Linked DNA regions of Homo sapiens: all the other regions are reported to be linked to region 3. The links are microRNA targets in miRTarBase. Many come from high-throughput screens and were not tested one by one. Region 3 holds a microRNA gene; each other region holds the end of a gene's coding sequence. Distances are from middle to middle.
The links. Region 3 holds the annotated microRNA hsa-miR-4735-3p (AAAGGUGCUCAAAUUAGACAU, at 2,267-2,287, opposite strand). A microRNA usually pairs through its seed, bases 2 to 8, with sites in the 3' UTR of a target mRNA and lowers its output. Matches are read on the target gene's strand: a 7mer-m8 pairs with bases 2 to 8, a 7mer-A1 pairs with bases 2 to 7 and ends in A, and an 8mer does both.

Region 1: miRTarBase lists ZNF670 as a target of hsa-miR-4735-3p. Seed matches in the 3' UTR shown: 7mer-A1 at 1,437-1,443.
Region 2: the mRNA of MBD1 is a reported target of hsa-miR-4735-3p. The part of its 3' UTR that is shown has no 7-base or 8-base seed match.

The regions. Positions count from the first base shown.
Region 1 is chr1:247,034,908-247,038,004 of GRCh38, reverse strand. ZNF670 (zinc finger protein 670) reads left to right here. Exons shown (of 4, transcript NM_033213.5): 4 at 1-3,097. The coding sequence ends at 556. All of the region lies in intron 1 of ZNF670-ZNF695 (ZNF670-ZNF695 readthrough (NMD candidate)), which reads left to right. Among named protein-coding and RNA genes, the nearest start is that of ZNF695, 28 kb to the right of the region's middle.
Region 2 is chr18:50,268,865-50,271,961 of GRCh38, forward strand. MBD1 (methyl-CpG binding domain protein 1) reads right to left here. Exons shown (of 17, transcript NM_015846.4): 16 at 2,605-2,676; 17 at 1-954. The coding sequence ends at 2,637. Among named protein-coding and RNA genes, the nearest start is that of CFAP53, 3.9 kb to the left of the region's middle.
Region 3 is chr1:196,580,151-196,583,338 of GRCh38, forward strand. It overlaps MIR4735 (microRNA 4735), which reads right to left and starts at 2,331; the gene lies at 2,263-2,331. All of the region lies in intron 1 of KCNT2 (potassium sodium-activated channel subfamily T member 2), which reads right to left.

The DNA.
Region 1 (3,097 bases), 50 Mb from region 3:
CTTCAATTATTCAAGTTATCTTCGTGAACATGAAAGAACTCATACTGGAGAGAAACCCTATGCATGTAAGAAATGTGGTAAATCATTCACTTTTTCCAGTTCTCTTCGCCAACATGAAAGATCTCATACTGGAGAGAAACCCTATGAATGTAAGGAATGTGGCAAAGCCTTCAGTCGTTCCACTTACTTGGGAATACATGAAAGAACGCATACTGGAGAAAAACCCTATGAATGTATAAAATGTGGCAAAGCCTTTAGATGTTCCAGAGTCCTCAGAGTCCATGAAAGGACTCACAGTGGAGAAAAGCCCTATGAATGTAAACAATGTGGTAAAGCCTTCAAATATTCTAGTAACCTATGTGAGCATGAAAGAACTCACACTGGAGTGAAACCTTATGGATGTAAGGAATGTGGTAAGTCGTTTACTTCTTCCAGTGCCCTTCGAAGCCATGAAAGGACTCATACTGGAGAAAAACCCTATGAATGTAAGAAATGTGGTAAAGCCTTCAGTTGTTCCAGTTCCCTTCGAAAGCATGAAAGAGCTTATATGTGGTAAAAAACAACAACAACAAAACACCTCTGTCAATGTAAGAAGTGTGTTAAAGCTTTCAGTTATTCTAGTTTCATTAGAACACGTGAAAAAATTAAAAACTCAAATTAGAGAGAAACCCAACACATGTAAGGAAGATTAGAATGTATGCAATTTTCCTAGTTCCCTTCTAAAACTTAGAAGGACCCGTCCTGGGAAAGAACGTCATAAAATACGAAAAATGTGTTAGAACACTTTATTTTCCCAGCCGCTTTCAAATATATTTTTATCAGTGGTTCATTGTTAAAGAAGGTGTCTATACTTTAGATTTTCAGTTTTTTGCAGGGAATCATGGAGCTGAGAATTTCACAGATACTTTATAAGCCATAGTACATGAGCTTAATAGGCTGTGTTTTGTTTCTCATCAGTTAACATAATTTTTGTCTATTCATTTAAAAATTTGTTGGATCCCTAGACTAAGTTGAAATGTATTTCTAATAGTAGGCAATTTTAATTTTCATGTAGTTGTTTAATTGTTCTCTAATTAATGGACCAATGAAAAATGAGTTCATGTGTGTGTGTGTGTGTGTGTGTGTGTGTGTGTATTCTACCTTTTTATGGGAAAACTACTTTTTTGTTGTAAAGATTTTCTTCTGTTTTCTTTGCTAATAAAGAATTGTTATTAATTTGCATGTATGTGAAGTTTATATAGTCTCATGTACATTGTTATTTTCATTTTCTTTCCTTTATTCTGTCATGAGTTTTGGCTGTTACTTGCATAGTTCACTTTTTTAAAAAATGTTATGTTTTTAGAGAGGGTCTCACTTTGTCAGCTAGGCTGAAGTGTAGTGGTAATAATAGTCTTAGCTCACTGCAGCCTCAAATTCCTGGGCTCAAGTGATTCTCCCACCTTAGCCTCCTATGTAGCTGGAGCTACAGACACATGCCACCATGCTCAGCTAATTATATAATTTTAAAAATTTTTTATAGAGATGGGATCTCGCTGTATTGTCTAGGCTGGTATTGAATTCCTGGCCTCAAGCTATCCTCCTGCCTCAGCCTGTCTACATGTTGGGGTTACTGACATGAGCTACCACACCTGGCCCACTTTTTACTTTGAATTAAGAAGAGAGAACTGTGATTGGACAGTATGCTTGTCTAATCTGCGTGTGAAAGCATTCAGTCTCACCATCAAGTATATTGTGGATTTTTCATAAATATTCTCAAACAGGCTCAGGAAGTTTTCTTGTGTTTTTTATTTATTGTTTCATGGTAAAGGAGTGTTGAACTCTTATGACATGTTTTTTTCTGCATCTATTGAGATGATTTGTGGTTTTTGGCATTCTACTGATAGTCTATTACGTTAACTGGCTTTCAGATATAAATATATTATGGTTATCTGGGTGAAATTTGTCTTCATCATGGAATATAAGTATTTTATCTACAGGTTGAACATCTGTAAACCCCAGATTCCAATACCAAATCTGAAATGCTCCGAAGTCAAAAACTGTTTGAGCACCAGTCTTATGCTCAACAGAAATGCTCATTAGAGGATTTTTGATATTTGGATTAGGGATGCTCATCCAGTAAGTTTTCTGCAAATATTCCAAAATGTTAAAAGTCTGAAATCCAAAGCACTTCCGTTCCCAAGTATTTCAGATAAGAAACACTCAACCCATATTGATAACGTTCAATTTTCCAGTGTATTGTTGGGGCCTTTTGCATTTATAGTCAAATTGGTGTGCCCTAGTATACCATATAGTATAGCATCATCTGTATATATAGCATGTCTACATGTATACTTATATGTGTATAAGTAGCTATATAATATGTGGTATAGTACAGTTTTGTAAGTTACTATGAATTATGCATAACTAGTTTATATTATGTGTAATTAGCACTACAATAAATTGTATATTACAGGATTATGGCATTATAACATACTATTTTGATCTTATCAGTCTGTAGCCTAACATATTTCAGTTGCCTACCATTCCACAGATGCATTTAAACAAACCAATTGCATCCTTATGAGAACCAAGAAGCATCTCACGTTCTTGATACTACAAAGCATTCCCCTTACACCCTGTTTGTTCTATCTGCTCCGTAGTGCAAGTCTTGTGTGGACCAGCCTCGTTTACAGAACCCTCCCTTTTTTGTCTATGAATGTATGTAACTAATAACTTCTCTCAATCTTATCTGTACACTCATGGGTGTCACGTGTTTTTCCCAGTAGTCTTAGGGTCCTAATTTTTCCTGTCACCCATGAGACTGTGAAAACAATTGGCATTACCAACAGAATGAACCAACCATGACTGATGATATCTTTTCAGCTTTAACTACCTGCTTTTGTCTAACTGGTTCCATAATATAACAGAAGTCACCTGAATTAGAAACAGCAATTGATGGTGGACTTTCACTTTGGTCTACACAGTGCTTTGTGTTATCAGCTGTTGCCACCTCTTCCCACAGTAGAACTCTCAACTCCTAGACATGACTGGTTGACCAGCCGTTCCCCAGGAGGATGTATGTTCCACCTTGACCTGTGTTTGGCAGGCAGTTTCCAAG
Region 2 (3,097 bases), not on the chromosome of region 3:
TTAAAAATAATTTTAAAATAGAACAGCTTAGAGATAGAAACTAAATTATTTCCAATTCCTACTGTGCCCCAAACAAGGTTCACAAAAGGGCTGTCCTCCCAACAATTTTCTGAATTCTATATATTCAGCATTAAATTCCATGATAAAGTTGGAAATCCATTCACCATTTGTAATACATATTGATGCATTTAATAAAATTGCATGGGCCGTATCTTTTGCATTTCTGTATCCTAGTATTAAGTACAGTGCCTACCACAGGCCAGGTTCTCAATACTTGAATAAATGACACAAAAATAGCCAGGACCAGCAAGTTTTTTCTGGGTGGGCTTCATAGAATCTCTGTACTTGCTGGAATCACCATGAAATCCATGGTCTTCAGCTTTGCATTTTCAGCCACATAGTTATATTGAGTTATCCTCAGGTGAGCAGTGAGACCCTTGGGAGCGGATTCATGGTAGGGTGGCTTTGTAATGTGTCACCTTGGTGAGGCTATGTTTCCCGGAACTCTCTTCCAGTAAGATGGGCCACAAGAGACATTTTGCTTGATAACCGGAGGGCGGAAGTGAAGCAGCAGCACATTGTTTTTACACTTGGAAGGTTGGTGCTGGGGCACCAGGCGTTGTTGCAGTTCACACGTTGCCATGTATCTGCTAGATCACCTCGTTGGTGTGGGCAGTAGTCAGGCCTGCAGCCAGGCCTGCAGCTGCTCCACCTTCCCCAGGATCATCCTTTCAGCTTCTCTAATTCCTGGGCCAGATGCATATTTAACTCTGTGAGGAAGGGCACCAGCTTCTTCTGCAGGACACCCACATCATCGAAGCTGGAGGTGGTGAGAGACTGACATGGGTTCCAGGCCATCCTCGTGGGTTCCAGCTCGTGCTCGTGGGCTCCACTGTGTCCTCGGTCTCCCACACTTTACATCCATCTTCCCTTCCCGAGTGCCTGCCCTGCAGACTTCAAGCTCCAGCATTAGATGCAAAGACAACAGCCTTACAGAGACTGTTTAACCAGCTCCCACAATGGCATGCGGTCAGATCCCTATAATAAATCCCTTAAAATACATATATACATAATCTTTATCTTAGTGGTTCTGCTCCTCTGATTGTACCCTAACATAAATGGTCAGCAGAAGCTTAACTCATGAGTCTAAATGTCAATCAAATAAATTTCATATAGATCATTGTCAAAATTACCAGAATACTGGGGTTGGGTGGTTGGTTCCTGGGGGAAACAAAGCAGTATCAGTCTATCCAGTCTTGACTAGGGCTGAACTAGTTAGGATGGAATAAAGGAAGGGGTGGGGAAGGTGGCAGAGGCTGGACTGTATGAGACAGAACTGGGAAATGGCTAATCCATGTCTGAATTACTTAAAGCTGCAGGGCTGGGACTAGGGTAAGGCAAGGGAGGCACACAGGATACAAAGTTTAAGGAGGCACTCACTCAGTCCTGGCCCTGTAAAGCTGGCTAACAAATTACAGGTCTAATCTTTTTGGCACTTTATGAATGAAGAATTGGGAGAGAGTGAGGTAGGGCTGAGCCAAGACTGGCTCTTGGGCAGGACTCGAAGCAGGAATTCAGCCTCCTAGAACACATTCAGGCTGAGGGCAGGAGCCAAGCACAAAGGTGATCACAGGGCAGGAGATGCACGTTGTCAGGAAAGATGAGCCAGGCTGGCAGCTTTAGTTACAAAGACTGCTCTGGCTGAAGAGGGGGAGTCAGGGTAACAAGCAAAATGGACAGCAGCCAGTGGGGAGATATATCCTGTAGGGTTTGAGGAATCCTATGCAGCACCTGGGGTCTGCAGGAAACCCAGTTTCTGTATGAACAGATGCTCTGACAAGGTGACCCCATCTACATTGAGCCTTGGCACTCCCTAAACCATGCTAGAGACAGGAATGTAAGGGATTTATTATAGTAATTATAGTAATCTGTGTTTTCAAGGTCACCGAAAACTCCTGTTAGTGCATACAGGATTACAGGTTACAGTTTAGTGGAGTAAAGAACAAGGGCTTTAAAAGCTGGGTTTGAGTCTAGGCTCTACTAACACCAGCTGTTCGACATTGGACAAATTAATGAGTCTCAGTTTTCCCATCCACATAAATGGACAAAATCAATGTCTTCCCAAAAATATTATTTTAAGGATTAAATAAACTGGGTCCACAGAGGAACACACCAAATAGCAGTTCCTTTCCTTATTTATTCAATTACATTTTCAATTGCTATCTCCCTGAGGAAGTATGTAGAGACACTGCCAGGTCTCATCCAGAAGCCACTTACAATTACTCATGAACATGGCTTGTTTAGGTTGTTTTGTGGTGGCTTTAATTATATTACCTTTCTCCAACCCAGCTCCCCCACCCTTAAAATCCAACTTCTTATACTCAGGCTCTTGGGGAGGAGAAGATGCACCAACTTTCTACTCTTTCTCTTCCTTTCCCGCTTACTTCTTCTAGAAGCTCAAAGTACTCTTAGGCCTGCTCTTCTGGTTTGGTAGTAGGTTTTTCCTCCTAGGGTTGATTCACACACAAGCCCTGGCAACCAATCTAGGGTCCAGCCCCTAGTAGATCAGTGTTGTCTCTCATAAAGCCAGTCTGCAAATATCACCTTGAATCCTACAGTCTGTAGAAGCCTCCAGTCTACTGCTTTCTAGCTCCAGGTTTTTTAAGGTCTTTGGACCTAGGGAAAAGGGAGCAGGTCTGTATGTTGAATGAGGTTTGCTATGTGCGCAATGGAGCATTACAAAACCATTTCCTACTATTCTGTGTCCTCCATCCACTTCCCCTTAATTATCCTTTATCTTTTTTTATATCTTCTAAAAACTACCATTATAGACAGCTTGTACATAGTCAGATTATAAGCTCCCTGAAGGTAGGTATCCTGTGTCTCCTGAAGGGTAAGCTTTGCAGGGCTCATTGTCCTCAATGCTGTGCACCCAACAGGAACTCAATCAATACTTCTGTAATTGGCCAAGTATAGATGAAAGGGTTTCTAGCCTGGTGGGCTGGTTTGTAGGAGCAAAGGAATCCAAGTGCTTAGGCCAATAGTTTACATCGCCAGTGTCTGGGGCTCTATGCAGGGTCTGTCAATATTCTGCAGG
Region 3 (3,188 bases):
CACTCAAGTAAAGAAAGTGAAGAGCATTCCTAAGATAATGGATTTATTATGAATGGAAGTCCCAGCTCCAGAAATACTAAATGGAAGAAATAATAGAATGGAAGCCCCAGCTCAACAGAGAAAAAAGTGATAAACAATCCCACAGAAATGTGGGTACAGAATGAAGCTTGAAGATGGTTCAGTGGGAGGGGAGGGAGTTCCTGAGTAACTCCACAGAAGAGAACCACGGAGGATCTGAGAGTGTTTCTTTCCACAGCATAACCTGGACCTTCCCCACAGGTACACTGTCTGATGTGTTTGATTACCCTGAGAAAGGCTTTATAGTTCTACCACAGTGCTTGGTGAAACACTATCAATAGGTAACTAGAAAACTTAGCAGACAACAAAATGAAAATGTGTATATACTTAGAAACAAAGACAGTTGAATAAGAAAATGATAATCATAATACTCATTACTCAGTTCTGAGCAAAACTGAAATAGTCATATAATATGCATACATGGTATTGCTCTAAACAAAAATAATTACTGTATTGGAAGAATGGGGAGTGAGATGTGTGTTGTGATGGTATAGTTAGACTGCTAAATCCTTATATTTCATAGTAGGAAGTCAATGAATACTCCCTCAAATTGAGAAACTGTGAAACTGACTATAGAGAATAAAAGCAGGGAAAAACACTCAAAAGGCTTCAAAGTGTTTCTTTCTGAAAAGTACATCATGGAAAAGCTGACAAGGTGAAGGCAGGGGCCAGATGGTTTTTGTTATTGTTGTTTTACTTGTTCTTGTTTTCTTGTAAGCCTTCTAATAATAGCTGATTTTTGAGCTATGTACAATCATTATTTTGGCAAGAACATTTTTTAAAGAACAGGTAATTTCTTCTCAAGAAATCATCTTGACTATAGCTGCTACAGCTATTTACAAAACGTACAGTTTTTTTTTCAGAAAATTAAACATTGAAATATTAGTATATATGTGATATAGTCATTCTTTTAGCATTTTTACCTTTCTGTACCACATAGGCTTAGAATAAGATCACATAAATGCTAATCTGTGGCAAGAAAATATGGGTCAGATTGTAGTGTTTCGCTTTTTTTATTGTCATAGAAAAATTATTCTTACATGATACTTGAGGAGTAGGAAATATTTATTCTTAGAAGTTAATTTTGTAACCTCCAAATTCCATATGCCTATAAATATCTAGATCTGGACCAGTTTAGTAAAAAAAGTTCTATTTTTATATATGTGAAATACACATGTATATTCCAAACTAAGCAAAAATAAAACATTAAATTTAATAAAGGGTTTTACTTGCTCTTTACTGAAAATGAATGCCACCGGGTGAATATTGCCCCATTTTTTTCTGTCCCTTATTCCCTGAGGCTATTCCAAAATTTCAATATAATGAAGTTAACACAATACAAAGTCCTCTCAGTGGCCGACTCACTCTAGAGACATTCCACAAGTATCCTAAGGAGATGGGGGAAAGATGGAGGGGAAACTGTTATTAGTAAGAACATATTTTCTTTCATTTATTTATAAAAACTTTCCAAAAAGAGAAAGAAATCCCACTCAAGCATAAATTAACTTCAGTTCATTTTAAAAGTATTTACTAAAAGCTGTCATAAAAATATATCAAATTCACTTTCTTCCATTACTTATGTTTTGAAAACTAAGTCTTTCATTTTGTTGTTCTCCTATTTAAATTATAGTAGATGTGTACAACATGAATAGACAGATGACAGCTGGATAATAGGCATCACAAATGCCTCTATGTTCACATTTCAGGAAAATTATGTCTTTCATAAGAAAATTCTGTGGGAGAACCAATAATACTGCCAGTTCTTCAGGTAGACTTTAAAAAGTCTTATCATATATTTCAAAACCAACATGTATGTATTTAATATTTACTTATCAACTTCTCTCCATATGCCAGTACAACGCCAACTTTTTTAGGAAAATCAACAAAGACCCTCATCTCCACCTTCCCTTCCTACATCTTAGTATCCCCTTCCAGCAAGCCTAATGGCCAAGAAAAACAGGGTTCAAGTTCCTGGCTCTGCCATTTTCTAGCTTTGTAATCACCAACGGATTACTTAACTTCTCTATGCCTGTTTCTTCAGCTGTACAATGGGGATAATATTATGCTTTCTCGTTGGGCATGTAAAGTACTTGGAAGAATGCTAGTAAAAAGTAATGTTATATGCATGTTCTCTTAAGGAGCTAAAGATCCATGAATAGATTTCAACTTGACATGCGCAAAAAATGCAATGTCTAATTTGAGCACCTTTGGTATTTTTGATGAATACCGAAGGTGTTCAAATTAGGCACTGCAATTTTATGCAAGCAGGGAAGATAAACTTGCAGAAGTGGAGCTGAGATTTTTAGAAGTTTGGAAGGGTTGGTTAGAATGATAGAGGGCAAGTTTTGTAGCTGCCTTATAAGGTCAAGTTCCCAATTTCTTCAGTCCTGGCCACTACCTTAGTGCCTCCACAAACACCCAAGATACAGCAGCATTGACAGCATTGACTAGGCTTGGTTCAAACACTGAGTCCTTTGAATTATTCTCTCACCACCAATTCATTTACATTTCAGTGATGCATCAGGCAAGGATACAGATGAACCATGTCACCTGCTTCAGCTTGTCCAAACTAAATAAAGTAGAACAAATAGAGTACAATAAAGGTTTGAAAAGCATAAAATACAGAAGATAATACAGATTGCATAGGATTATAAAATATAATTATACAGGATTATAAAATATAATTATACAGGATTATAAAATACAGAGATTTGCATAGCGAAAAAGCCTTCCTAAAATGCTGAGATAAAGATTATGTAAGTGATAACTGGTCAAAAAATAGGTGAATATCATGTGACATGTAGAGGTGGAGTGGGATGTCTTCAGAGGTTGTTATTCATTCCAGAGAGAGGAATTGTCCAATGGCAGCCAGAAGGAAGACCTGAGGCAGAAAAATTAAAACACCTCTCAAGAGTTCAGATGAGAAAGGCAGGCACATTAATTAGAAGCGTAATAATTAAAATGGACTCATGAGGACAACAATTTGAGCCATCTATGAATTGAATCAATGAGATCTGTAGTGAACCAAGCTTTAAAAAGAATTTAATAATCCAGCCTTGGGTGGCTGGTTGCATGTTGGTACCATATTTAAACACAAAAAATACCAGAGG